Regions from separate parts of the Homo sapiens genome. Here region 2 is reported to be linked to region 1. The links are microRNA targets in miRTarBase. Many come from high-throughput screens and were not tested one by one. Region 1 holds a microRNA gene; the other region holds the end of a gene's coding sequence.
Evidence for each region. Region 1 holds the annotated microRNA hsa-miR-3155b (CCAGGCUCUGCAGUGGGA, at 862-879, opposite strand). A microRNA usually pairs through its seed, bases 2 to 8, with sites in the 3' UTR of a target mRNA and lowers its output. Matches are read on the target gene's strand: a 7mer-m8 pairs with bases 2 to 8, a 7mer-A1 pairs with bases 2 to 7 and ends in A, and an 8mer does both.

Region 2: the mRNA of PBOV1 is a reported target of hsa-miR-3155b. Seed matches in the 3' UTR shown: 7mer-A1 at 803-809.

What each region holds. Positions count from the first base shown.
Region 1 is chr10:6,149,956-6,153,125 of GRCh38, reverse strand. MIR3155A (microRNA 3155a) reads right to left here and starts at 930; the gene lies at 849-930. It overlaps MIR3155B (microRNA 3155b), which reads left to right and starts at 864; the gene lies at 864-919. It also overlaps a transcript of PFKFB3 not described here. RefSeq lists an enhancer at 1,511-1,560.
Region 2 is chr6:138,215,385-138,218,384 of GRCh38, forward strand. PBOV1 (prostate and breast cancer overexpressed 1) reads right to left here. Exons shown (of 1, transcript NM_021635.3): 1 at 602-3,000. The coding sequence ends at 2,604. The region is part of intron 4 of ARFGEF3 (ARFGEF family member 3); the gene reads left to right. Among named protein-coding and RNA genes, the nearest start is that of PBOV1, 1.6 kb to the right of the region's middle.

The DNA.
Region 1 (3,170 bases):
ATCTTGGCTCAATGCCTTCCAGTTCAAGCAATTCTCCTGCCTTAGCCTCCCGAGTAGCTGGGATTACAGACACCCACCACCATGCACAGCTAATTTTTTTGTATTTTTAGTAGAGATGGGGTTTCACCATGTTGATCAAGCTGGTCTCGAACTTCTGAGCTCAGGTGATCTGCCCACCTCAGCCTCCCAAAGTGCTGGGATTACAGGCGTGAGCCACCGTGCCCAGCCTCTTCTTCCTTTTTTTAAAGACAAGGTCTCTTTCTGTTGCCCGGGCTGGAGTGCAGCGGTACGATCAAGGCTCACTGCAGCCTCAACTTCCCAGGCTCAGGCAATCCTCCCACCTCAGCCTCCCAAGTAGCTGGCACTACAGGCACATGCCTCCACACCTAGCTAATTTTTTAATTTTTTATTTGTAGGGACAGGATCTCACTATGTTGCCCAGGCTGGTCTCACTCTCCTGGGCTCAAGCAATCCTCCCACCTCAGCCTCCCAAGTAGCTGGGGCTGCAGGTGTGTGCCACTGCACCTGGCATACATTTCTCGCTTTTCTACTGAATTTCCTCAGCTACCAGATCCGCAGCCCTCCTCTATTCATGGGTTCGGAATGTTCCTCGTGCAAACGTCCCAGAGAGATTTAGCCCTTGCAGGTGGCTAGTTATCGTGATGCCTTCCACCCTCCTACCAGACGCTTCCTCCCCTGCTGCCTGGCTTGGGGAGCCTCCATGGAGGCTCAGAGGCTCCACAGCAGTGTGGACGGGTAAAGCCTCCAGCAAGGCTTCTGCCTCACTTGGACCACCTAGAACTTGCCGCAGGACCTGAATCACACTGGAGACCGGCTGCAGGAACTGTTCCAGGCATCAGTTCCCACTGCAGAGCCTGGGAAGGGAGCTGTCCGGCTCCCCAGGCTCTGCAGTGGGAGGTGATGCCCGGAACAGGCATCTCAAAAGTGTGGGTCACCACCCATTAGTGGCCTTGAAATCAATTTACTGGAATAAGACCAGAATCTTTCTTAATGAAATGGAACAGACTAGAAAACATCAGCATGTACAGTATTGTCTGAGGTGAAGTATTGTTTCAGGACATTTTTTGTCTAGGCATCAAGGCAGAAACTATCAAATCAGAATTTCTGGGGCATCAGGTTTTTTTTTTTTTTAGCTCCCCAGTTAATTCTAATGTGAAGCCAGGAACAGGAGCTGCAGGAGGGCGGTTCTGTCCTTCCGAGAAACAAGGCGTCCCCACCACGGCTGTGAGCCAGTGCCTGCCGCCCGACAGCCACAGCACTGTGGCACTGAGGACCAGCTTTCCCTGAAGTCCGCCTGCATCAAACAGGTCTACCCCATGCCTAGGCAAGACCTTCCTCTTTCTCACTTCCTTTTGAAAGTCCACACTTCTCAGGGAGCGGGGAGGGTACCCTCCCGACTTCCCGTTTGCCCCTGCCTGCCTGATTGGATCTTTCTCCACTGCTGTGGCTGGACAAGCCTCTGGGACGACTTCAGCAGCCTCAGGAGAGGACTTCCAGAATCTGATCGCCAGGGGTCAGTATCTCAAGCAGACAGTCACGACAGCAGACCAACTCCACCCTAAGAAAGCACAGTTGTCAGTCACCCCTCAAACAGAGGTAGCACCCCAGTGTCCTCACCAATGCAAGGGGCCACAGCCTCTGGGAAATCTGCTTCTTGCTTCTCTGGCCGAGGACTGGGGCATACAGGACCTCACTTTCTGACAAGTGAGTGTTGAAGCCCAGGCCAGGGGGAAGTGTGTTTTTGAACTGTCATGTCAGAGCACCTTCCGGAGCTACAGCTGGAAAGGCTGCTTGCGGAAGTGCCAGGACGACCAAACCCCGCTGCTCTTCAGACACCTTGTGGCTGCCCCAACCAGAACCTTGGATGCTCCTGGGGCCACGCCCCCTAGCTCAGACCCGCACACAAGATACCACCAAGACTCATACACACTGCCAGTGGGGAGCTACGGTAAGTGGGATGGTGTTCCACAGACTGGGGCTCCCTCCCTGTGTCCGTCTCCCTGCTGTCCTGGTCCACCGTCTCAACCGCCCAGCTGGAAATCTTGGAACTCTTCCCCTGCCGTCATGAATGATAGGCAATTTTTGCTTTTTGTTGTTGTTGTTCTGAGACTGAGTTTGGCTCTGTCGCCCAGGCCAGGGTGCAGTGGCAGGATCTTGGCTCACTGCAATCTCCGCCCCCCCAGGTTCAAGCGGTTCTCCTGCCTCAGCCTCCGGAATAGCTGAAATTACAGGTGCCCGCCACCATACCTGGCTAATTGTTCATACTTTTAGTAGAGACGGGGTTTCACCATGTTGGTCAGGCTGGTCTCAAACTCCTGACGTCAAGTGATCCACTCGCCTCGGCCTCCCGAAGAGCTGGGATTACAGGCGTGAGCCACCACGCACAGCCTGGGTATTGTCTTTATTTTAAATTACGCATGGGGAAATGCCATCATCTTTCAGCATTTAGGGTTTATAAGGATTTATTATTATTGTTATTTTTGAGACAGTCTCGCTCTGTCGCCCCGGCTGGAGTGCAGTGGCCACGATTTCAGCTCACCACAACCTCCGCCTCCTAGGTTCAAGTGATTCTCGTGCCTCAGTCTCCTGAGTAGCTGGGATTACAGGCGCCCACCACCACGCCCAGTTAATTTTTGTATTTTTAGTAGAGACAGGGTTTCACCATGTTGGTCAGGCTGGTCTCGAACGCCTGGTCTGAAGTAATCCTCTGACCTTACTCAGCCGTCCAACGTGCTGGGTTACAGGCATGAGCCACCGTGCCTGGCCTATAAGGATCTTAATGTGGCTCTGCAACTACTCATTCCAAAAGAAAATGACAGATTAACCAAGTAGAAGAATTTATGAAACACTTGCTACCACCAGGTCCAATATAAGCATGAGGTATAGACCGTAACTCAAATAGCTCTCCAAGTTACCATGCAGAAAGCATTCTGAGAACAAATGAGTGTTCCGGTCTGGTTATGGGACAAGATATGCCTGCAAGAGGTGCTATGTGCATAGAATCAATGGAAAAGGTGACAGAAAAGGCATGAACTTAAAAGGCGTGAAGAGACATCCAAACCCCAAGTTTATTGCAGCGCTATTCACAACGGCCAAGACATGGAATCAACCTAGGTGTCCAACAACAGATGAATGGATACAGAAAATGT
Region 2 (3,000 bases), not on the chromosome of region 1:
ATTACTGGGTGTCTTTTTTATGTGCATTTTTAGATAATAGAAGTGAATATTCGTAGAGTGCTTTGCAATTTTTAAAGGAGAAATGACAGGGGCTTATCATTTAACATTTTTTATGCACCAGACATATTGATACTAAGGTCACACAGCTAGTGAAATGACCAGGGCAGTATTCAGCCTGGAGTTAAACCTGTGCTCTTAAGTGGTGGGTTACCTTGCCTGCCAAGTCTATCCTGAGAGGCTTGTGGGTGCTAGTCACTGCTATTCTTCTTGTGTAGATGATGGAGCAGAAAAGCCAAGTCACAGGCTAAGGAGGGGTAAAACTAGGAGTGGCTCAGAGTCCTGTGTGGTTTCTGTGTCTTCCCGTGATAATGATATTCCCTCACTAGTCCTGTGAGCTAAATTCACATATGAAGAAGGAATCTAAGTGTCTTTTCCACTAAGTTAGCTAATCGGTCTGGTGTGTGTGTGTGTGTGTGTGTGTGTGTGTGTGTGTGTGTGTGTGTGAAAGAGAGAGAGAGAGAGAGAGAGTGTTGGGGAAAGGGAAAGAGTGTAATTTACCATTGGTTTTTTGGTTTTTTGGTTTTTTGTTGTTGTTGTTTTTTTTTTTGGGTGGGGGGGAGTTTTACTCCTGTTGCCCAGGCTGGAGTGCAATAGTGCAATCTCAGCTCACCGCAACCTCCACCTTCCGGGTTCAAGCAATTCTCCGCCTCAGCCTCCTGAGTAGCTGGGATTACAGGCATGTGCCACCACGCCCGGCTAATTTTTTGTGTTTTTAGTAGAGATGGGGGTTCCACCATGCTGGTCAGGCTGGTCTCGAACTCCCGACCTCAGGTGATCCACCCACCTCCCAAAGTGCTGGGATTACAGGCGTGAGCCACCGTGCCTGGCCGGGGTATTTTTATATAACAAACGCCTAGTAAACATCTATAGAAAATACACAGATGAGTGAATCGTGGACAGAGTTTACTATTTGTATGGCTGGTAGTCCTAAGCTTCAGGGTGTCCAATTAGAGTTCTGGTATTACAAAGTGGAAGGGAGTGTGCTTTTAAATTATGTATCAGTACTGTCGTCAGTGCCTTGGTCTGGGAGCAAGAAACACGACAAAGGAAGAAAGACTGTTTGAGTCCCCTCTCGGTAATGTTTTAATGGCAGAGTCTTACACTTGGGAAGTTTCTTCAGATGGTTAGTTTTGATGTTCTTAACTCGGGGCATTTGGTCTTCTAGAGTTCCTTTTGGAAAGAATGTGATCATTAGTGAAGTTTGAGAGTGAAATGGCTAATTTGTCTTGCTGCTTATAACAGGGAGAAATCTCTTCTTAGCCTGAAGCCATTGAGACCCTTCAGAAGATTTGTAGCAATCTCTAGCGTTAAGGAAAAATCCAATGTTTGATGAAAAATATTTAACTCCTGAATGTGTCGTTGTTGGAGGTTGATCTAACAAGTTTGCAAACATATTGTTTGTGCAGTTAATGCAGGGAAGTGTCTAAAATATGTGGTTCTGCTAAGTAAATGGTTCTCAAACAGCCTTCCCTCTTCCTGCTCATAAGGTTGAGTGATGAGAATCTTTTTCTACTTTGCAAACAGACTAATATAATTCTTACTGAGTTTTCCTCCCATCTTTCTTTACCCTTTGATATGACTGCCTTCAGCAGATGGTAAAAATATATGAAAAAGTAATGAACAAACATTGAAAGCCTGGAGATGTGATTTTCCTTTAAATAGTTTATGCATTATTTTTGAGATGGAGATTTTCATATTATCTATTAATATCTTTTTAAAGCACCACCATTTCCAAGTGTTTACTATATTTCAAAATCACTCTACTAAGTGTCTTTAAACTTTTCTCACATAATCTTAATTTAAGCGCATATAAATGCAGAGGCCCTCATCACTTACTCTGGATGTTCTATAGATCCAAACAGAATGGGAAAGTTCTCTGATTTTTTAATCATTTATTCAGCAAATATTTGATTGTTTTCTATGTGTCAGGCACTGTGCTGGGCACAGAAGATCCCATAGTGAAGAAAACAAAACCAAAGAAAAACACAATCTGTGTTTGGAGGCCAATGATAGAGTCAGAAATCAATTAAATATATAAATACACTAGTCCCCACTTATCCAAAGTTTCACTTTCCTTGGTTTCCATTACACATTGTAATGTCTCCTCAACTCTTGACTCAGGCATGACTTGAACATTTCACTAGTTACTAAGCGAAAATTAGTGGTATACTATAAGTATTGTTTTTATCCCTCTGGTGCCTAGCGGAGCATCTGGCACATGGCTTACTAATTGCTCGTTAGTTTAGTTATTGACTAATGGAGAGACAGAAACACATGTGGTAGTTTTTAATGGCCCACTAGGATAAATAACAAACTAAATTGAGATAATAGATAATAATCTATGAGTTCAAGATTGAGAAAGATCAACATGGGTTTGTATTTTAGAATTGAAATAACCTCCTACATCATCAAATTCTTTTCATAAGTAAATTGAAGTTGGAATGGTTCAGTTACTTGGCTGGGCTTAAACAGTCATTGGTAGCAGAATTGCCTTTTCAACCATTTTTATTTTTCTGGAAAGGCTTTGCAGCAGGGCTGAGAGTTTATATGATCTGTGGATGTATAGTTTTGGATAAGTAGAGAAGACAGCATTCCAGACCTAGGGTCTGAGTTAACTGCAAAGTCAATGTGAATAATATGGCTTCTGAAGATAATGAGGAACATTTCATTGAGGAACCTTTCATGGTCAAGTGTGTCTGCAAGGGTGTGAGAATTGCATGGTGTGACTGTTCTATGGAATAATCAATGAACTCTGTTGCCTTTTGACTTCTTTTTACTTTTTCTTTTTTTCGAAATACCTTGTAGCAGAATGGTAAGAGCACAGTTTCTGGAGCTAGAATGCCTGGTAGCCTTGGGAAGTTACTTAATCTGTGCCTCAATTTTCTGATCTGTAAAATGTGAATAATATTGTGCATATCCTCATATTTCTGGTTCCTTAAG